2 separate regions of the Homo sapiens genome follow, and region 2 is linked to region 1. Evidence: fine-mapped expression QTL. A gene starts in region 1. The other region holds a variant in brackets. All regions are shown on one strand. Distances are from middle to middle.

Region 1 (11,561 bases):
GCTGCATGTGCCCTCTGGTGCTGTGGGACCCCTGGCTGATGGGGCAGGAAGTTGGGGGGAACAGGGAAGGGGTGGGCATATGTGCCTAGGTGGGCACAGAGCACACAGCTCTTCACCTGCTGTTCCCTCTGACTTTCAGTCGCCCTTCAGGCTTTCTTTTTTTTTTTTTCTTTTTTATTTTTTGAGACGGAGTCTCACTCTGTTACCCAGGCTGGAGTGCAGTGGCGCGATCTCAGCTCACTGCAAGCTCCGCCTCCAGGGTTCACGCCATTCTCCTGCCTCAGTCTCCCTAGTAGCTGGGACTACAGGCGCCCGCCACCACGCCCAGCTAATTTTTTTTGTATTTTTAGTAGAGACGGGGTTTCACTGTGTTAGTCAGGATGGTCTCGATCTCCTGACCTCGTGATCCGCCTGTCTCGGCCTCCCAAAGTGCTGGGATTACAGGCGTGAGCCACGGCGCCCGGCAGCAGCTTTATTTCTAAGAACCAAAAACTAGAAACAACTCGATGGCCGACGACAGGTGAATGAATAAACAAACTGCAATGTATTCATGCAACAGAATATGACCTAGCAACAAAAAAGAATGTACTGGCCGGGCGCGGTCGCCCTCCCAGCACCTTGGGAGGCTGAGGCGGGCAGATCATGAGGTCAAGAGATCGAGACCATCCTGGCCAACATGGTGAAACCCTGTCTCTACTAAAAAGACAAAAACTAGCTGGGCGTGGTGGCGGGTGCCTGTAGTCCCAGCTACTCGGGAGGCTGAGGCAGAAGAATTGCTTGAACCGGGGAGGCGGAGGTTGTGGTGAGCCAAGATTGTGCCACAGCACTCCTCCTGTCACAGTTTGGTGACAGAGTAAGACTCCGTCTCAAAAAAAAAAAAAAAAAAAAGGAATGAACCTCAGATGCGTACAGCAACATCGGTGAACCTCAGAAGCGTTATGCGGAGTCAAAGAAGTCAGACCAAAAAGGACACACACTATATACTTCCTTTTACATAAAACTAAAAAAACACTATAGGGACAGAAATCAGAGCAGTGGTTGGGCACAGTGGCTCACGCCTGTATTCCCAGCACTTTGGGAGGCCACAGTGGGTGGATCACTTGAGGTCAGGAGTTTGAGACCAGCCTGGCCAACATGGTGAAAGCCCGTCTCTACTAAAAATACAAAAATTAACTGGGCATGGTAGCGCATGCCTATAATCCCACGTACTCCAGAGGCTGAGGCAGAATTGCTTGAACCCGGGAGGTGGAAGTTGTAGTGAGCCAAGATGGGGCCACTGCACTCTAGCCTGGGCAACACAGCGAGACTCAGTCTAAAAAAAAAAAAAACCAAAAACCCCACCACTTCCAAGGTGCCCGTCACCCATATGTAATTCCTAGGGCGCAGGACACTGTACAAGAATTCTTTCGCTTCAGGGATAATTATTCCTGAGAGACAAGGTCACAGAATAAAATTAGCATGTTTTAATTTGGAATTGCCCTCACTGGACTCAGGGGAATTCGTGGCCACACAACGGGCTCTGTATTCGTTTCCTGTGGCTGTTGTGACACATTACCATATACTAGATGGCTTAAAACATCACAAATGTATTCTCTCATGGTTCTGGAGGACAGAAATCCAAAATCAAGCTGTTGGCAAGGCTGAGCTCCTTCCAGAGGCTCCAGGCGGAGGAACTTGCTTGCCTCTTCAAGCTTCCGGTGGCTCCAGGAGTTCCTTGGCTGCTGACTGCATCTCTCCAGCCTCTGCCTACAGGGTTACATCCACATCGCCTCCTCCACTCTGTACGCCTTTGCCTCTGTGTTATCTTCCTTGGCCTCCTTTTTCTTTTTCTTTCTTTCTTTTCTTTTCTTTTTTTTTTTGAAACAGAGTCTCACTCTGTCTCCCAGGCTGGAGTGCCTTGGTGCGATCTCGGCTCACTGCAACCTCCGCCTCCCGGGTTCACGCCATTCTCCTGCCTCAGCCTCCCGAGTAGCTGGGACTACAGGCACCTGTCACCGCGGCCGGCTAATTTTTTGTATTTTTGGTAGAGATGGGGTTTCACTGTGTTAGCCAGGATGGTCTCGATCTCCTGACCTTGTGATCTGCCCGCCTCGGCCTCTCAAAGTGCTGGGATTACAGGCGCGAGCCACTGTGCCCAGCCCTTGGCCTCTTTTTTCTAAACTTTTTTGAGACAGCGTCTCACTCTGTCACCCAGGCTGGGGTGTAGTGGTGCGATAATGGCTCACTGCAGCCTGGACATCCTATGCTCAGATGCTCCTCCCACCTCAGCCTCCCGAGTAGATGGGACTACAGGCTTGCACCACCACGTCCAGCTAATTTTTTGTACTATTTTTGTAGAGATGGGGTTTTGCTATGTTGCCCAGGCTGGTCTTGAACTCCTGGGCTCAAGCGATCCACCCCACTGAGTGTGGAGATTGGGGCCAGGCATGGTGGCTTCCATCTGTAATGCCAGCACTTTGGAAGGCTGAGGTAGGAGGATCACTTGAGCCCAGGAGTTCGAGATTAGCCTGGAAAATATGGCGAAACTCCAACTTTACAAAAAATTAGCTGGGCATGGTGACATGGGCCTGTAGTCCCAGCTACTTGGGAAGCTGAGATGGGAGGATAGCTTGAGCCCAGGAGGTCGAGGCTGAAGTGAGCAGAAATCGTATCACTGGGCGACAGAGCAAGACCCTGTCTCAAAACAAACAAACAAACAACAAACAAACAAACAAAAAGTGTGTGGAGATTGGAATCTAATAAACCTGAGTGATTCAAAGCTTGGCTCTGCCACTACCTAGCTGTGTGACTTTCCTTGGACTCAGTTTTTTTTTTTAATCTGAAAAATGGGAATAACATTTGCTTAAGGAAGGGTTCTAAGGACTGAATGAGAAAATGCACAGGGCCAAGGATAAAGTAGGTGCTCAGTAAAAATGAATTATTATCAGTATCACGTTCCTGGCTTGAAGGAATAAAGATGGAAGCTGTCGTGACAAACAAAAACAGACTGGCAAGCACTGATACAGAAGGACATTAAGTGAAAACACATTTTATAGTAATAAATCTAGTGCAATTCTCAGCATTCATTCAGTTAATAAATATTTGTAGCTCCTACCTGAAGTGTTCTAGATGCTGAGACTTCAGCAGTGAACAAACCAGACTCATATCCCAGACCTCATGGGGATAGTATTCTAATAGGGTGAAACAATAAATAAGTACATACAAATAGGCCCAGCGTGGTGCCTCTCGCCTGTAATCCCAGCACTTTGAGACCCAGAGGCAGGAGCATCAGTTGAGGCCAGGAGTTCAAGACCGGTCTGGGCAACATAATGAGAATACCTCTCTACAAAAAATTTTTAAAAATAGCCAGGCATGGTGGCACACACCTGTAGCCCCAGACACTCAGAAGGCTGAGGTGGGAGGATTGCTTGAGCCCAGGATTTCGAGGTTACAGTGAGCCATGATCATGCCACTGCACTTCAGCCTGGGTGACAGAGTGAGACCCTGTCTCAAAGAAAAAAAAAAACAAAAACAGAAAGTGGTAAGTGCTGTGATGAAAATAATTTAGGATGATGGGGGAAAAAAATCTCTGTGAGATAAATTCTAAAATTAACATAAAAAAAAAAGCCAGGTGAAGTGGCTCACGCCTGTAATCCCAGCACTTTGGGAGGCCAAGGTGGGTGGATCACCTGAGGTTCGAGATCGAGACCACCCTGATCAACATGGAGACATCCCGTCTCTACTAAAAATACAAAATTAGCTGGGTGGGTTGGCCTGTAATCCCAGCTGCTCTGGAGGCTGAGGCGGGAGAATTGCTTGAACGCGGGAGGTGGAGGTTGTGGTGAGTCGGAGATCGCGCCATTGCACTCTAGCCTGGGCAATAAGAGCAAAACTCCGTCTCAAAAAAAAAAAAATAAATTAATAAAATAAAATAAAATTAACACATACACTAATGCAAGCATTTTTTCTCTGGAAAAATACAGAGATATTTAACTGGTTACTTTTTGGGGAGAGGCTGGAAGGTGGGGTTTGGGGAGAAGAATCCTTTTTTGAAAAAAATTTACCTTTCTGTAACTTTTGCTTTTTCTGACCGTGTATCCTTTTTTGAGACAGGGTGTTACTCTGTTGCCCAAGCTGGAGTACAGTGGCACCACCTCAGCTCACTGCAACCTGTGCCTCCCAGGTTCAAGCGATTCTCCTGCCTCAGCCTCCCTAGTAGCTGAGATTACGGGCGCCTGCCATCGTGCCCAGCTAATTTTTGTACTTTTAGTAGAGACGGTGGGGTTTCATCATATTGGCCAGGCTGGTCTCGAACTCCTGACTTCAGGCGATCGCCCGCGTAGGCCTCCCAAATTGCTTGGATTACAAGCTTGAGCCACTGCCCCTGGCCCGCGTGTCCCATTTTTTTTTTAAATGGCAACAAAATGTAGCTGGGTAGAGGGATTTCAGCCGTGTTTTGTTTCTCTTCCCCATTCTTTTCCAACTTTCCATTTATTTTAAACAAATGCAAAAGTGAGGCTACAGTTCTCGTTTTTATTATTTTATTCTGTGATGGCTGGAGAAGGGTCTCACCTGCCAGAGATCTGTGCAATTAAAAACACCCACAGCTGAACCGTTCAGGGGCTGGCAATTTTTTTTTTTTTTGAGATGGAGTCTCGCTCTGTTGCCCAGGCTGGCGTGCAGATGGGCGATCTCCGCTTCCTGCAGCCCTGACCTCCCGGGCTCAAGCGATAGGCCCACCTCAGTCTCCCGAGTAGCTCAGACCACAGGCGCACACCATAATATTCGGCTAATTTTTAAATTTTTTGTGGAGACCGGAGTCTCGCTATGTTGCCCAGGCTGGTCTCCAATTCCTGGGCTCAAGCGATCCTCCTGCCTTGGCTTCCCAAAGTGCTGGGATTACAGGCATGAGTCACCGCCCCCGGCCGGAGGTTGACGATTTTTGCAAAAATATGGAACATTTGGGATTTTCATTTCTTAGATTATCCTCCTTGCGCCGCTCCCTGCTCCCCCACCAAATAAAAAAAGAAAAACAAACAAAAAACAAAACAAACAAACAAAACGAAAGCCCTTTTATGACTACAAAACCCAAACGTCTCATCTGCGAGGTCACCACTTGGAAGGCACTGTCATGAGCCCTCAGACTTGCGATTCTTTAATCAGCATTCCTGAAACCTAGGTGTCCTTAGGATTTTTCATTTTTTGGTTTCTACAAACAGCTTTTCAGGGAAGCTGGCTTTGGGGATGAGGCCTAAGGGAGGCACCAGGGGCAGAAAAGAGGAGCTCCTGCCCTCGTCCTCCGTGGCGCCCCCACCCCCACCATCTCCCTGCAGCCTCGCCTCCGCCTCCGCCCCACCCGCTTAGTTTTGATCCGCGCGGAGGAGCGCGTCCCGTGGTTGCCATGGAGACCGCCGGACTGCGGAGGCCACAAACTGTGCGAAGGGGGAGGCGAGGGGCGGGGCCGCGGGAGGCCCGGGGGCTGAGCGCGGCGGCTGGGACTGAGCCAGGGAGAAAGAGGAGAAAAATCCAGCGAAGCCCAACGACCTGGCTCTGCAAGAGAAAAACAACCTGAATAAGCCGGTAATTGTGAACAGGCCGCTCGCTGAGACCTTAACGTCCCCTAAGCCCCCACATCTTTTCTTTCCCTCTGGCCCGTCTCTTTTTCCTCCGTTCCCTCTTTAAAAATTTGCCTGGTTCCTTTATGAGTTAAATAAGATCACATTTATTTATTTATTTGAGACGGAGTCTCGCTCTGTCGCCCAAGGTGGAGGGCAGTGGCGCGATCTTGGCTCACTGCAACCTCCGCCTCCCAGTTCAAGCGATTCTTCTGCCTCAGCCTCCCCAGTAGCTGGGATTACAGGCATGTGTCACCATGCCCGGCTAATTCTTATATTTTTGTTCGTTTCTTTTTTTTGTTTGTTTGTTTTTGAGACGGAGTTTCGCTCTTGTTGCCCAGGCTGGAGTGCAATGGCACGGTCTCAGCTCACTGCAACCTCTGAATCCCGGATTCAAACGATTCTCCTGCCTGAGCCTCCGGAGTAGCTGGGATTACAGGCATGCGCCACCAAGACAGGCTAGTTTTGTAGTTTTAGTAGAGGCGGGGTTTCACCATGTTGGCCAGGCTGGTCTCAAACTTCTGACCTCAGGTGATCCACCCGCTTCAGCCTCCCAAAATGCTGGGATTACAAGCGTGAGCCACCGCGCCCGGCAATTTTTGTATTTTTTAGTAGAGATGGGGTTTTGCCATGTTGACCAGGCTGGTCTCAAACTCCGGACCTCAGGTGATCCGCCCGCCTCAGCCTCCCAAAGTGCTGGATTAAAGGCGTGAGCCACGGCGCCCAGCCTGAGATGGAGAATTTTCAAAAGAGTAGAGACAGATCGGACCTAAGTTTTTAAAAGATGCCCCCAGCTTCTGGATGGGGCCTGGATTGCAAGCAGTGATGGGGAGGCGGGAAGCCCAGTGAGGGGGCTTTGTACACATCCAGGCAAGAGTGGCTGCAAGTATTGTGGCTGCTAAGTGGTTAAATGGTGCAACACATTTAGGAGAAGGGGATTAGCTGTGTCTTTAGCGTCAGCTAGTGTTTTAAATGCTAGTGCCCAAGATCTGGTTCTAATATTATATTAGATCCACCACTCAGAGCTGTGCAACTTCAGACCAGCCTCAGTTTCACCGTCTGTAAAAAGATGATTGATGGCACTGGCCTTACCATGTACCTCTGAGGGTTCCTAACAACGAGGCCTATTCAACATGTCTCTGGATGCCTGGTTCCAAAGATGTGGACCAATGCTAGTCGCATGTCCTGTAGCAGGAGGAGCCACGGACAAAACCCCTCAGACACTGGGTTAAGGAAGGATTTGGCTTTTTCGGCCGGGAGCTTCGGCAGACTCGCCTCTCAACTGGCGGGAGCTTCGGTAGACTCGCGTCTCAAGAACCGAGCTCCCGGCCGAATGCGACTAGCATTGGTTCACATCTTGATTCTTTTTTTTCTTTCTTTCTTTCTTTTTTTTTTTTTGAGACGGAGTCTTGCTCTGTCGTCCAGGCTGGAGTGCAGTGGTGCGATCGCGGCTCACTGCAACCTCCGCCTCCCGGGTTCAAGAGATTCTTCTGCCTCAGCCTCCCGAGTAGCTGGGACTACAGGCACGTACCACCACGCGCGGCTAATTTTTTTGCATTTTTAGTAGAGACAGGGTTTCACCGCGTTAGCCAGGATGGTCTTGTCTTGATCTCCTGACCTCGTGATCTGCCCGCCTCAGCCTCCCAAAGGGCTGGGATTACAGGCGTGAGCCACCGCGCCTGGCCATCTTGACTCTTTGGTCGACACAAAAGGCAGACTATTCTGGATTCAAATCCAAACTCAACCACTCCCCATGGCTGTGACCTTGAGAGTGTGGTTTTATGTCCTTGGGCCTCAGTTTCCTCAGCTGTCTAATGGGAATTGTACTCATGCTACCAGTCTCCTGTTATAGCAAGGATTTCCTGAGTTCATTCATAGAAAGCACTGGGAATGGTGCCTACTACATAGGAAGCGCCTCATAAACCGTGCCTATCCTTAGCCATCTCATTCTTTTTTCGAAGTTGCAAAATATTTCACTGTAAGATACTACCATAAAATAGAGGCAGTCTCTACTCGTGAACTTTTAGGGTTTTTTGTTGTTGTTTATTTGTAGGGGTTTTTTTGCACTTTTGTTTTTTTGAGACAGTCTCCCTCTGTTGCGCAGGCCGGAGTGCAGTGGCGCGATCTCTGCAACCTCCACCTCCCAGGTTCACGCCATTCTCCTGCCTCAGCCTCTCGCGTAGCTTGGGACTACGCACGCGCACCACCACACCCGGGGTAGAGACGAGGGTTTCACCATGTTGGGCAGGCTGGTCTCGAACTCCTGGCCTCAAGTGTTCCACCCACCTGGGCCTCCCAAAGTGCTGGCATTACAGGCATGAGCCACCGCGCCTGGCCATGAACATTTGGGTTTATTCATCCCCTCAAAAATATGTATTGAGCCCTGACCTGCCAAGCGCCACAGTGGGACTGTTGCAGTCAGGTACCCATTTCTCTACCCACGCATATAGGTGTACGGGTACCGATAGTCGCGTGAATTTAAAATGCTAATCTGTGGTGCCAGTGGCTCTCAAAAAGTAGAATCCACTAGCACACCCACCTCCCGGACTTGGCTGGAAACTTGCACATTTCGGATGGCAGGTTTGGGAACCGCTGCCTTTCAGGAAAGGTGCTGACGTGGGCCACTGCCGCTTCGCTGGGAAGCAATGGGCCCAGCTAGGCCCGGGGCGCGGCCACACCCCTGTGGGGGAGGGGAAGGAGGCCGCCCCGAAGGGAGTGGACAGCCCCCCTGTCAGTCTTCCAGAGTCTGGGAGTGTAAGATGAGACGGGGGAAGGTGGGCCTCATTCTGGCGGAGGGCGAGGAGGAACTTCCTGCCCGCGCGCTCCACGGTGCAGAGCTCTAAGCGCGCGGGCTGGCAGGCTGCGGCGCGTCAAGGTCAGCCTGGAGCTGGGTGGCGGCCTGCCTGGGGGCGGGGGACCCTACTGGAGGCCCGGGCTGGGGCCTCCCAGCGCCTCGGCCATATTGAATAGCTTCGACTGGACCGTCTTTGTCTGCGAAGTCCTGTCCCAAGTTCCAGCCGCGTCCCTGGGGCCTGGGGCAGGAAGAGTCGCTGGCAGCCCGCGCGCCCCAACTTGGAGCTGGGACACCACGTTTCCAGCTTGGAGTGGGCCTTGAGCCTTGGGACTGACCTCGCCCCCGGCTCACGTAGGCATCCTGGAAATTGATTCCCCCAAGTCCTTGGTGGGGGAGCCGGACTTGGTCAAGACTGTACTTGTTGCAGGCGAAGAGATTGGAGGCGTTTGGCTCGTCCCTGGCTAGGGAGGTGAGACTCTCCGGTCAGCGTTGCTGGAACTCCCCCCATCCAGTCCCTCCCTCAAGACTAAGGGCTACAGTAGTTTGTTGGGGCTCATTGCCCCCTCACCCCAGATATCACCCTGGAGATCTTAAAGACTCTCGAGAAAAGCCACGTGGGGGGCTGGTTCCCCTGGGGCTTCCTGCCGTCCCCCGACTGCCTCATTCTTTGGAGCGTCCCCGATGTCTGCAAAGATGTGGATTTGGACGTCCTCGTGGAAGCCCTAAAGCCCGTGGGGACATTTAAGAAGATCGGCAAGGTGTTCCGCAAGGAGGAGGACTCCACGGTGGGGATGCTGCAGATCGGGGAGGACGTCGACTATTTGCTCATCCCCCGGGAGGTCAGGCTGGCTGGGGGCGTCTGGAGAGTCATCTCTAAGCCCGCCACCAAGGAAGCAGAATTTCGGGAGCGGCTGACCCAGTTCCTGGAAGAAGAGGGCCGCACCCTGGAGGACGTGGCCCGCATCATGGAGAAGAGCACCCCGCACCCGCCCCAGCCCCCCAAAAAGCCCAAGGAGCCCCGAGTGAGGAGGAGAGTGCAGCAGATGGTGACTCCTCCGCCCCGGCTGGTCGTGGGCACGTACGACAGCAGCAACGCCAGCGACAGCGAGTTCAGCGACTTCGAGACCTCCAGAGACAAGAGCCGCCAGGGCCCGCGGCGGGGCAAGAAGGTGCGCAAAATGCCCGTCAGCTACCTGGGCAGCAAGTTCCTGGGAAGCGACCTGGAGAGTGAGGATGATGAGGAACTGGTCGAGGCCTTCCTCCGGCGACAGGAGAAGCAGCCCAGCGCGCCGCCTGCCCGCCGCCGCGTCAACCTGCCAGTGCCCATGTTTGAGGACAACCTGGGGCCTCAGCTGTCCAAAGCGGACAGGTGGCGGGAGTATGTCAGCCAGGTGTCCTGGGGGAAGCTGAAGCGGAGGGTGAAGGGTTGGGCGCCGAGGGCGGGCCCCGGGGTGGGCGAGGCCCGGCTGGCCTCCACCGCAGTGGAGAGCGCAGGGGTATCATCGGCGCCAGAGGGCACCAGCCCGGGGGATCGCTTGGGAAACGCGGGAGATGTTTGTGTGCCCCAGGCTTCCCCTAGGCGATGGAGGCCCAAGATCAACTGGGCCTCCTTTCGGCGCCGCAGGAAGGAGCAGACAGCACCCACAGGTCAGGGGGCAGACATCGAGGCTGATCAGGGGGGAGAGGCTGCAGATAGTCAAAGGGAAGAGGCCATAGCTGACCAGCGGGAAGGGGCTGCAGGTAATCAGAGGGCAGGGGCCCCAGCTGACCAGGGGGCAGAGGCTGCAGATAATCAGAGGGAAGAGGCTGCAGATAATCAGAGGGCAGGGGCCCCAGCTGAGGAGGGGGCAGAGGCTGCAGATAACCAGAGGGAAGAGGCTGCAGATAATCAGAGGGCAGAGGCCCCAGCTGACCAGAGGTCACAGGGCACAGATAACCACAGGGAAGAGGCTGCAGATAATCAGAGGGCGGAGGCCCCAGCTGACCAGGGGTCAGAGGTTACAGATAATCAAAGGGAAGAGGCCGTACATGACCAGAGGGAAAGGGCCCCAGCTGTCCAGGGTGCAGATAATCAGAGGGCACAGGCCCGGGCTGGCCAGAGGGCAGAGGCTGCACATAATCAGAGGGCAGGGGCCCCAGGTATCCAGGAAGCTGAAGTCTCAGCTGCCCAAGGGACCACAGGAACAGCTCCAGGAGCCAGGGCCCGGAAACAGGTCAAGACAGTGAGGTTCCAGACCCCTGGACGCTTTTCGTGGTTTTGCAAGCGCCGGAGAGCCTTCTGGCACACTCCCCGGTTGCCAACCCTGCCCAAGAGAGTCCCCAGGGCAGGAGAGGCCAGGAACCTCAGGGTGCTGAGGGCCGAGGCCAGAGCAGAAGCTGAGCAGGGAGAGCAAGAAGACCAGCTGTGAGGTGAGGGCTAGAGACAGCCCACGGGCCCTCCCTCCAAGTGTGGGAGGGAGAGATGCTCTGCCTCTGAACTTCAAAGTGGAGGTGGAGTGCTGGCCACGTCTCCACCTAACAACCCTCTTTATTCTCTTGTTAAAGTTTTGTTCATGCTTTGATTTTTTTTTAAATTTTTTAGAGACAGGGTCTCACTCTGTTGCCCAGGCTGGAGTGCAGTGGCATGATCATAACTCACTGCAGCCTCAAACTTCTGGCCTCAAGTGATCCTCCTGCCTCGGCCTCCCAAAATGCTGGGATTACAGATGTGAGCCACCACACACACCATCTGATTAAAAAAAAAAAATACTGATTCCTTGTAGCAACCCAAAAAATGTAAAGAAAGAATTCGACACAATGGGGTTGCGTCACCTATAGTTTTCATTTCCTCAAATGCAACTCAAGGTGCTCAGCTTGATAAAGGGAGAGAGGGAGGGCAGGGGAGAAACTGACTCCTTTTTCCATCTCTTTTTTGCCTGCACACTTAATGTGGACTGCCTCCTTGGACTTAAAAAGAGTTGAGCCAACATGCAAATCAAAAAACATTTATGAACTGATTTCTTAGCTTTGGACTTGACAACTGACGAATGCTCTGGGGGTGACCTGGCCCTTGCTGTCCGTTCCACTCCCATCCTTGATGATGGAGACACCTGTGTTTATGTTGTCACTTCGCTTGCCATCCTCATGCCCCGGGCTCTGCTGGTTTGGAGGGGACAGGGCCCTTGGTTTGCACA
Region 2 (11,597 bases), 55 kb before region 1:
GCTGAGTGCGCCACTGCACTCCAGCCTGGGGGACAGAGTAAGACTCTGTCTCAGAAAAAAAAAAAAAAAGAGATTTATATAATTAACCCTTATGTATCCCTTGCCATTCTTTATTAAATCTTAATACTATGCTAAATTTATTTACACATCTTTAAACAAAATTATTGTTTAAATAGGCTGTGTCCTACCTCCCATATGACTTGCCCTCTTCTTCTCCCCAGAGATAGTCACTTGGAGGATTATTGCATTTAAAAATCCAGTATTTATCAAAACTCAGTGTCTGTCATTCCCTTGCATGCCAAAATAAATAACTGAAAAAGAGAGAAGAAAAAACAGACAGTGTCTAATTCTAACTGAGTCACTGTGTGACTCAGTTTCCACTGCAGCAACTTTGTCTGCAGCCTGGATCACAAACAAGCTCCCGCATTTGTAAAACTACTTGGCAAACATAGCAAAAGCCTCTGAGATTCAGCAAACATCCATTCCATTTCATTTTAGTTATGATGTTTTACAATCCACTGCTGGTATAAATTTACTTTTTATCCTGTCTAGATTGACGATTTTCTTCTTCTTCTTTTATTTTTTTATTATTATTTTTTTTTGGTCTGACAAATCCTTAGCAGAATTTTCAAACACACTGAGATGTTTTGTTTTCTCTTTGAAGAGAAAGTTCCAGAACTTTGATTCTGTGCTCATGCACTGGGGTTGGGTGGCATTCCTGAAGGGGCAGCCAGGACTGTTAGGAATATTGGCTCTGCAGAAAGCTGAAACCTGGCTTTTGAGGCAAAGCTGAAGGCATCTCTCTCCCTCCCTTGCCCCCCATCTCTCCATTCTGTAACGCATTATTTGTTCACTTTTGTAGTAAAATACACATAACATAAAATTCACTATTTTAACCTATATTTATTTTTCAAAAAATAATTTACTTTTTTTTTTTGTTTGTGAGACGGAGTTTCACTCTTGTTGCCCAGGCTGGAGTGCAATGGCACAATCTCAGCTCACCGCAACCTCCGCCTCCTGGGTTCAAGCGATTCTCCTGCCTTAGCCTCCCAAGTACCTGGGATTACAGGCATGCACCACTATGCCCGGCTAATTTTTGTATTAGTAGTAGACACAGGGTTTCTCCATGTTGGTCAGGCTGGTCTTGAACCCCTGATCTCAGGTGAGCTGCCTGCCTTGGCCTCCCACAGTGCTGGGATTACAGGCGTGAGCCATCGTGCCCAGCCCGTCTTCATTTTTCTACCTTCACTCCTACTAGCGTTCCTGGACCCAGATGTCCTGGATGCAGAGGTCCCTCCTGTTACGGTGGTAGACGCATCTCATTCCCATGGGGGTCCCAAATACTTCTCTAGAGTAACTTTTTTTTTTTTTTTTTTTTTTGAGACGGAGTCTTGCTCTGTCGCCCAGGCTAGAGTGCAGTGGCGTGATCTCGGCTCACTGCAAGCTCTGCCTCCCGAGTTCACGCCATTCTCCTGCCTCAGCCTCCTGAGTAGCTGGGACTACAGGCGCCCGCCACCACGCCCGGCTAATTTTTGTTGTTGTTGTTGTATTTTTAGTAGAGACAGGGTTTCACCATGTTAGCCAGGGTGGTCTCGATCTCCTGACCCACGATCCGCCCGCCTTGGCCTCCCAAAGTGCTGGGATTACAGGCGTGAGCCCGCGCCGGCCTCTCTTTCTTTTTTTGAGACGAAGTCTCGCTCTTGTCCCCCAGGCTGGAATGCCATGGTGCAGCCTCGGCTCACCATGTTGGCCAGGCCATTCTCCTGCCTCAGCCTCCCGAGTAGCTGCGATTACAGGAGCTTGCCACCAGGCCCGGCTAATTTTTTTGGATTTTTAGTAGAGACGGGGTTTCACCATGTTAGCCAGGATGGTCTCGATCTCCTGACGTCCAGATCCACCCGCCTCAACCTCCCAAAGGGTGGGATTACAGACGTGAGCCACCGCGCCCAGCCTCACAGGAACACTCTTGTTCTTGCATCCTTGAGCTTCCAAATAAGAAGTTCAACGATCTACCCTCTGGTTTTCATGCTGTGAGGAAGCCCAAGCCACATCAGTGCTTCCATCAACATTTCCCAGCTGAGCCCAGCTTTCAAAGGATTTCAGCCCAGGCACCAGACATGTGAGTGAAGAAACTCCCAGATGATTCTAGCTCTCAGTCATTTGAGTCACCCCCAACTGTCACGGGTACGACTAGGTGCGGCGGGTGTTGTGGGCAGTAAAGGTATTTACCAAGACAGTTGTAGGTAAAGAAAGGCAGATTTATTAGAGAAGATATGAAAATACATTGCACGGTTGCAATGGGCAGCACAGCAGAGAAGGGGGCTGTCTGCAAAAAGGCAGGGACTGGAAGTTTCATAGGGGTATGCTGGAGGGGGCTACATGCAGAAAGAGGTCATTGTGCCCATGGGGGATTGTGATTAGCCATCTCTCAGAAAAATTGTTCATTGTTCTTCCCAACCTGGAATGCTGTGAACCCGGGAGGTGGGGCTTGCAGTGAGCCGAGATTGCGCCACTGCACTCCAGCCTGGGCGACAGAGCGAGACTCTGTCTCAAAAAAGAAAAAAAAAAAGTGTTCCAGTGAATGAGGAAGAAGCTGCGTGCCCTTCTGTAACATAGTCTGAGAAGCCACATAGCTTCCTTTCCACTAAACTCCATTGGTTAAAGTAGTCACAAGTCTGCTCAGATTCACGAGGAGGGGACACAGATCGTCACTTCTCAATAGAAGTGTCGGAGAATTTATGGCTATGTTTTTAAACCACTGCCTAAAAATATACACTCATTCTTCCACTGATATGTAGAATTTCAACATATAAAGCACATGAGATTTAAAGACTTTAATCATAGCTAGAGTGTTTATTGGAATATTCGGTGTGAATTATGTGAATAATCAGAGGTTAACGATTTGAATGACACAACTTTTTAGCACAAAATATGATGGAAACTTGGGCAATCACACAAGTATTGATGATGCCCAAATTTAGGAATGCCAGAGATGACAGTGAAATGAACATTTGGCTATTTGGCCTTGCAAATGTCAGTTTCAAAAATGAACCCAAAGAACAGATTTTGGTTGAATACCAAGGCCCAAATTGTACTTCCATGCATCTTTCAGATGAGATCCCCCCGAATCTTCAAAACTTCCAAATCAGGAAGATTTTTTATTAGAATTCCTATTACAGAGAAAAGAAATAAGCTCAGCGGGGTCAAATTATTTCTCTAAGATCACACAGCCAGGAAGGGACATTGGTAGGTGGATCAGTGAGGGACTGGCAAAAAAAAAAAAAAAAAAACAGATGGCCAGTCCAACCGAGTCTCATAGGAGTGCTTAATTAATTAGTTTATTTTTTTTGAGACAGGGTCTCCTGGGTTCAAGCAATCCTCCCACCTCAGCCTCCCGAATAGCTGAGACCACAGGTGACCCCTATCACACCTGGCTAATTTTTTGCGTTTTTGGTAGGGACGGGGTTTTGCCATGTTGCCCAGGATGGTCTCGAACTCCCCAGCTCAAGTGATCCGCCCTCCTCAGCCTCCCAAAGTGTTGGGATTACATGCGTGAGCCACAGCACTGGGCATTAATAAACTATTAACAAAGTTCTTGCTCATGGGCAGCAAGGTTGAGGTAGGAGGCCCAGGGGACTCCACTGAGGATCACATTGAAGACTGGCCAAAACCTGGAAAAGGCACCGAAAGCCTCTCTCCATAAGACATGCCTGCCAGCACCATGACAGTTTACCATTGCCATGGCAACACCCATAAGTTACTGCCAATTTGCTAATTCTGAAAACCCACCCCTTAATTAGCACGTCATTAAAAGTGGGTATAAATGTGACTGCAGCCTTGCCCCGAGGTGCTATTCTCAGCACACTGCCTAGAGGGTAGCCCTCCTTGTTAGGTTTTGGAGGGAAGGTGAGGGTTAAAGACACACAGACAGAAGGCGGCTCAACAGCAACTCAGGTATACTGCAGACACCTGTGGAAGTGGGTAACCAGCCTAATGCCAGAGCCCACTGCTGCTTATAGGCTGGGGGTACTTATAGTTATGGGTGGGAGGGGTCTGAGCAGTATGGTTTGCTGCCCAGCAGGATGTTGATAAGATGGTTCCATGATGAGGCGGTTCTGGCCCTTGTTCTGGTGGAATGTGGTGTTCTCTGCACTTTCTCCCAGCAGAATATGATAGGGATGTTTCTTCAGTTGGGCCTTTGCACGATAGGGTATGATAATGTTTCTTTAGCTGGGCCTTTGTCCGCCTTGTGGTCAGGTGATTAGGCAGGATGTTTCTCATTGGCCCGAACCCCCGTGGAATATTTCACTTTGACCAAGATCTGCAAAATAGTCAGGGCTTACAAAATGGTTGCAGTTTGGACTAACACTTCTCTGTAGGGGCAGTCACTGAGCTGTAACATTGTCCCCTGCCTGGAGGATGCCAAGAACCTGCCCTGAATCACGTTGAGGAAACAAGAAAAGGCGAGGCATTATCCTCATGCTAGAAGGGGTCGGGGAGGAGACTAAGAAATTTCTAGAAGTTTCTGGAAATTCCTGGAAGAACCCAGCAGCTTGTAAGAGAGAAGGCTACAAGCCCAACAGGAACTGCACCTGCTGTTGGAGGAACCCAAGAAGATTAAAGCCTCGTTTTCCTCCTTTCTTGATTTCTAGTGTCTCCCAAGAGTTGCGTTGGGTGAATCCAACAGGTGGGGCAGAGGATAATACAGTCAGTGGGTGCAGCCATAGGTGTTGGCGCTTCTCATCGACCTAACCCCCGTTCGCGAGGCCCACTTGGGTTGAAAGAGGGCCTCCGTGGAGGCGCCACCGGAGTGTATCCAGACCCGCTTGCTCTGCGACCTGAACAGGCCACTCTTGCACCCGGCTCCCTAGGTCCAATTGCAGCGCCGGCGCGCCGGCCGGGCTCAGCCCTAGCAACCCACGCCCGGTTGCCATGGAGACGTCGGCACCTGCGCAGCCCAAGACCCCCGAGCGGCGGTGCGGGAGCCAGTGCGCAGGCGCGCGCTGCGACGCCAACCTCGGCTTCTCGCCGCTAACGGCATCGAGTCTGGACGCCCCGTGACCCGCCTGGGCCGGAGCGGGGGCGGACGGCGCCTTCTTGGCCCTTTCTGCCTCTAGCAGCGGCGCCGGGGTAGCCGGAGCCAGCGACTGGGAAACGGCTGCATTCCACTGCGTCTCCTTGGCCTGGCTGGGCGGTCGGAGGCTGATCTGCCAAGTAAGTCCCGGCTGGGCAGGCGGAGCGTCAGGCCCGGGGGAGGGTCCTAGGGCCTTTTGCTGCAGATTCAGGGACACGTGTGAGCACCGGGGCCTGGGTTGGGGAGGAGGGTGTTGGGAAAGCGCCAGGCCTCCTGCAGGCCAGCCGCGGAGGGGGCAGCTAGGATCTGTGAGCTTGGTCATCTTCCTGGGAACGTGACCTCGCTCCCTTGTCACCTTGCAGGATTACTGTTTGGAGACCGCTGCAGCCCACGTCCACCTGATAGACTATTTACTACACATAGTAG[G/A]TTCAGAGCCGCTAAATGTCCAAGACCATGGCGATGAACCTTCTGGAGGATTGGTGCAGGGGAATGGAAGTGGACATCCACAGGTCCTTGTTGGTCACAGGCATCCCAGAGGACTGTGGGCAGGCAGAAATTGAGGAGACCTTGAATGGGGTCCTCTCCCCACTGGGCCCGTACCGCGTGCTCAACAAGATTTTTGTGAGGGAAGAGAATGTTAAAGCTGCCCTCATTGAGGTTGGTGAAGGTGTGAATCTGAGCACCATCCCCCGTGAATTCCCAGGAAGGGGTGGTGTCTGGAGAGTGGTCTGTAGAGACCCTACCCAGGATGCCGAGTTTTTAAAAAATCTGAATGAATTCCTGGATGCCGAGGGGCGCACCTGGGAGGATGTGGTCCGCCTGCTCCAGCTCAACCACCCCACCCTGTCCCAGAACCAGCATCAGCCCCCAGAGAACTGGGCAGAAGCTCTGGGGGTGCTTCTGGGAGCAGTGGTGCAGATCATCTTCTGCATGGATGCCGAGATCCGCAGCCGGGAGGAAGCCAGGGCCCAGGAGGCCGCTGAATTCGAGGAGATGGCAGCCTGGGCTTTAGCAGCAGGGAGGAAGGTGAAGAAAGAACCGGGGCTTGCAGCAGAGGTGGGTTCTGCCTTAAAGGCAGAGACCCCCAACAACTGGAATGCCACGGAAGACCAGCATGAGCCTACCAAACCTTTGGTTCGCAGGGCTGGAGCTAAGTCTCGCTCCAGGAGAAAGAAGCAGAAGAAGAACTCCAGGCAGGAAGCAGTGCCCTGGAAAAAACCCAAAGGCATCAATTCCAACAGCACAGCTAACTTGGAGGATCCTGAGGTGGGTGATGCTGAAAGCATGGCGATCTCAGAGCCGATCAAGGGCAGCAGAAAGCCCTGTGTGAATAAGGAGGAGTTGGCTTTGAAGAAGCCCATGGCGAAATGTGCCTGGAAGGGTCCCAGAGAGCCACCTCAGGATGCCCGGGCAGAAGCCGAGAGCCCAGGAGGCGCCTCTGAGTCAGACCAAGATGGTGGCCATGAAAGCCCACCAAAGAAGAAGGCCGTGGCCTGGGTGTCTGCCAAGAACCCCGCTCCCATGAGGAAGAAGAAGAAGGTGAGCTTGGGCCCTGTCTCCTACGTCTTGGTTGACTCAGAAGATGGCAGGAAGAAGCCGGTGATGCCAAAGAAAGGGCCAGGCTCAAGAAGGGAGGCATCAGATCAGAAGGCCCCTCGGGGCCAGCAGCCTGCCGAGGCAACAGCCTCAACCTCTAGGGGTCCGAAGGCCAAGCCAGAAGGCTCTCCTCGGCGTGCCACCAATGGTGAGAATGATAGCAGAAGTGACTGGGCTCGTGCCAGCAAGTGGATGAGGCAGGAGGAGCAGGAGTGGCAGGTGGGGCAGAGGAGCCCGAGGAGGTGGTGGGTCAAGCGGGTGATGAGGAGGACCCTGGTGCATGGCAGGAGGTGGATGACACACCAGTTGAGGAGGGTAAGAGCCCAGACCGCCCTTCCAGGAGCCCCTGAAGGCCGATGCTGGAGACATCTGGTGGGCAGGAGGTGGCAGAGGAAACCCACAATGAGTGTCACTGTGGTCATTTGCCACTCCATCTGACCCATCTTCCTTGATGAGAATTTAATGGTTTGGGCCCAGGCTTGGTGGCTCATGCCTGTAATCCCAGCACTTTGGGAAGCCAAGGTGGGCAGATCGCCTGAGGTCAGGAGTTCAAGACCAGCCTGGCCAACATGGTGAAACCCCGTCTCTACTAAAAATACAAAAAATTAGCCGGGTGTGGTGCCACATACCTGTAATCCCAGCTACTCGGGAGGCTGAGGCAGGAGAATCTCTTGAACCCGGGAGGTGGAGGTTGCAGTGAGCCTAGATTGTGCCACTGCCCTCCAGCCTGGGTGACGAGAGTGAGACTCTTGTCTCCAAAAAAAAAAAAAAGAATTTAATGATTTGGGAGGCCAAGGCAGACAGATCACCTGAGGTCAGGAGTTCGAGACCAGCCTGGCCAACATGGTGAAACCCCATCTCTACTAAAAATACAAAAATTAGCTGGGCATGGTGGTTTGTGCCTGTAATCCCAGCTACTGGGGAGGCCAAGGCCTGGGATTGGCCTCCAGACATCTGCCCACCAGATGTCTCCAGCATCGGCCTTCAGGGGCTCCTGGAAGGGCGGTCTGGGCTCTTACCCTCCCTGAACCTGGGAGGTGGAGGTTGCAGGGAGCCAAGATCACACTGCTGCACTCCAGCCTGGGCGATAGAGTGAAACCCTGTTCCCCCCTCCCCCCAAAAAAAATATTAATACTTTGGAGTTATGGTGTTTGCAGGGTATGTGGCTTTAAGGGTGAAGTTTTCTAGAGACCTGGCTGGGGAATAGAAATGTTCAGGGACCCAGAAATTTCTTGGAAGTAATGCATTTCCTAATGACACCTCTCTGCTTCCCTTCTTGATCTGTTCTCTCATTTATTTGCAGAATCCAGAAAGGTTTGATCTGGGGGACCACCCATACTGAGGAGTTGAAAGAACAAGGAAGAAGTACCAAGTCAACCAAGTTCTCTCTTGTCACTGAATAAGACTTTGGACTCTCTTAGGGCCCCTGTTGATAGAGATCTGGCCCTGAGGTAAACGATAGGTGAGGTCTTGGGTGGGAGGGAGTTGGGGAAGGGAGGTGGATCTCTATGCCCTTTTCTCTACCAGGCCTGCCGTTTCACCGCCTTCTCTACTCACCTTCTCTTCGGAGGCAGGAGAGTTGGTAAGAGGATTGGGAAAATTCTAGAACATTCATTCCCCTTTATGCATGAGCAGGGTCACTGTTACACTCATCCATGTTCAGCTTTTCTCCCCCACGCCTTGCTCCCTCCTCGGAATGGTCAGCGACCTCTGCAGGCCCTGGCATTTGGAAGAGCTGGGTGGCCCTGCCATATTCTTCCTCCCGCCTTCCTCTCGTGTAACCAGCGGGGTAAGTTAAGCCAGGACCTTCGCTGCAAACCTGGTTTTATTGCTCCTTCAGTCTCCAGCTTCCATCCTCCAGTTATCTAGCCAGGAGGTCCCAAGAGTTAGTTTTAGGGAAAAAGAATGTCTGCCTAGACCTCAAAGTCTTTGAGTTTTAGAGTCTGTTAGTAAAAATGGCACTTTGATTCCCATTTGGGATGAGCCCTCTCAGGAATCCTGTGGGGAAGGGGGGTGATTATAGGGAAGGACGCAGGCATTCCTAGGTCCCCAGCTCTAATTCCATCCATCTACCCAACTGTCACCATCTTTGCACCAAACTGTCACCATCTTTGCAGCAGAAGGTCACTACTCACATTATAGTAAGAGGGGAAAAAAATCTTTTAAAACTTGGCTGTTGGCCGGGCACGGTGGCTCACGCCTGTAATCCCAGCACTTTGGGAGGCTGAGGCAGGTCGATCACGAGGTCAGGCGTTTAAGACCAGCTTGACCAACATGGTGAAACCCCATCTCTACAAAAATTAGCTGGGCGTGGTGGCGCGCGCCTGTAATCCCAGCTACTCAGGAGGCTGAGGCAGATGAATTGCTTGAATCCAGGAGGCAGAGGTTGCAATGAGCCGAGATTGTGCCACGGCACTCCAGCCTGGGCAGCAGAGTGAGACTCTCTCTCAAAAAAACAAAACTTGGCTGTTAATGTCTGCCCTCTGAATTCAGACACACTATATTAGACCAGACCACCATGTGTCATTGTGTGTGTGTGTGTGTGTGTTTGCGTGCGCATGTGTAGAGGAGAGAGCAGGGTCCCTGAGATAATGGTTTCCAAACTGTATCGTAGCCGTCCACAAAGATGTAATCCAAATCTATTTTTCTCACGTGTTTAAAAAACTGAAAAGTGACTACTCAGATATGTTGGAAGTCACATCGAAGACTATCAGAATATTACCTTGTGTTCATAGGTTAACTTGTTTTTGTACACGTCTTAGTTATTTCAGGCATCTCTTTGCTTAAAATTGAGTTTCTTGTAAATGTGACTGATGAGCGAGGTTAGAAGTGGAAGAAATTCCTGTGCATGTTCTATAATCTGACACCCTGAAAGCAAGTTTCCTTTCGTCATTCACATGCTCTTGTTCTGCCGTGACTGTTCAGGTGTATGGTAGTAAGTAAATGTATTAACATGGTGAACAGTAGTAATATTCTATCATAGAGTATTAGCCCTTGCAAGTTTTCAGGGCGTCTTTTCCGACTTCAGTTTTTGTGATAAAGAATGTGAACAGTTGTTAGATGTTCTCAGTGATTCAACTTTAAAACAAATTTCTCGTGATGATTCATTTCAAAATCCTGAGTGAGTCTGACTGAAAAATACGAGAGAAAAGAGAGTGGTTTCCGTTTGCAGCTACACAGCTGTGTGCATCGACGTTCTCCTGGGGTGTGTGCCAAGCGAAACCCAGGGGTGAATTGGATTCTTGAAGAGACCAAAGCCTGTAACTGTCCAGCTTCTAATTTCAAAACGGGTCCATTAGGGCTTCGTTGTGTTAACAAGTTGACACCATGACTAGTAAATGTAAACGTGTATGTATAAAATAAAGTTTAGCAAATTAAGTGTCCTGTTAAGTCTCTTGTAGGTGAGGATTGCATGGACTATTAAATTTGAGGAAAGGGTTCCCCTTTCCTCAAACAGTGCCCCCAGCCAGATGTGACTGGTTATCAGATACGGGTTCAAGCTTTGAGAATTGTTAATGATCCATGAGAGAAGAAGCCGTTTGTCCTCTTTGCGAATGGCTTTCCACTGATGTGGAAGGATGTCCCACAGATCTTGGGGTTTCTAGAATAGGTATCTGGTGACGCAAATTACCTCAAAGTACCAGTTTATTTTTTTATAAACAGCTGGAAAATGAAAACCTTTCCCTCCCTTCCTATTCCCTCACACAGAAGCCAAGGTCTTTTTTTTTTTTTTTTTTTGAGATGGAGTTTCGCTCTGTCACCCAGGTGGGAGTGCAGTGGCACAGTCTCAGCCCACTGCAGCCTCTACCTCCTGGGCTCAAGTGATCTGCCCACCTCGGCCTCCCAAAGCGTTGGGATTACAGGTGTAAGCCACCATGCCAAGCCAGAAGCTGAGGTCTTTTAGCTAAAAATATAGTTTTCTTCTGGCCCTCCCCTGCCCCTCCCCAGGAACTCCTGAACCAGGGTGGCCACTACATCAGTCACTTGGAATCTGTTCAAGGTACCATTTCGTGGCTCTACCTGCTGATTCAGGATCTCTTCGGGGTTGTACATAGTTATCTGCGTCTTAAACAGTTTCTCCTGAGAATTTTTTTTTTTTTTTTTTGAGACGGAGTCTCGCTCTGTCTCCTAGGCTGGAGTGCAGTATCATGATCTCAGCTCACTGCAACCTCTGCCTCCCGGGTTCAAGCGATTCTCCTGCCTCAGCCTCCCAAGTAGCTGGGACTACAGGGGTGCGCCACCACGCCCAGCTAATATTTTTGTATTTTTTTTAGTAGAGATGGAGTTTCACCATGTTGGCCAGGATGGCCTCGATCTCTGATCTCTTGACCTCGTGATCCGCCCACCTCAGCCTCCCAAAGTGCTGGGATGACAGGCGTGAGCCACCACGCCCAGCCAAGAATTCTATTAATAATACAGGTTGGAGAGCTTCAGGTGGAATAATTCAGACTTGGGGAAACGGAAGTGTCCTTAGGGGTCCAGGTTGAGGTTTTGTGAAAGTGAATGGAGATTATGAGGAAAGATGCGAAAGAGACCAAAAGGGAAGCTGGGATTTGAGGACGCGGAGCTCGTTAGGAACTGCCGTGTACTCATAGAAGCATCTGGATGAAGCTCTATTTATTGGGTGCCCCCACACCCCCACAATGGGAAAAGCCCTATTTGACCAAGATGTTTAAGTACCTCCCACAATAATAGTCACTCCTACTGGTTACACCCAGGCTGTCAGTAAAGTATGAAAGGCCTACGTGCCCTAAAAATGGGGGGAATCCAAGGTTGGGGCACATGAAAGCTCTCTTCAAAGAAACCTCATCGCCCCGGGTGGAGGTGTTCTGTTCAGGGGTGCGTCTGGGGAGGCGCTGGCCCGGAGTGTTTGCAGGAAGATGGAGAGCTGTGGATGCCACCAGCAGGGCTCGAGGGCAAAGTGTCC

The links. PIP is the estimated chance that this variant, and not a neighbour inherited with it, causes the effect. A credible set is the group of variants that fine-mapping cannot tell apart.
Region 2: its variant is the best candidate, but not a certain one, in a credible set for the expression of CCDC8 in fibroblasts (GTEx, PIP 0.59).

Annotation. Positions count from the first base shown.
Region 1 is chr19:46,410,429-46,421,989 of GRCh38, reverse strand. It overlaps CCDC8 (coiled-coil domain containing 8 subunit of 3M complex), which reads left to right and starts at 8,426. Exons shown (of 1, transcript NM_032040.5): 1 at 8,426-11,561. The coding sequence starts at 9,180. The coding sequence ends at 10,796. RefSeq lists a silencer at 5,370-5,459 and enhancers at 5,886-6,718, 6,719-7,552, 9,219-10,052.
Region 2 is chr19:46,464,954-46,476,550 of GRCh38, reverse strand. It overlaps PNMA8A (PNMA family member 8A), which reads left to right and starts at 4,988. Exons shown (of 3, transcript NM_018215.4): 1 at 4,988-5,214; 2 at 5,437-6,818; 3 at 7,974-10,048. The coding sequence starts at 5,516. The coding sequence ends at 7,990. The variant G/A (reference allele first, on the strand shown) is at 5,501.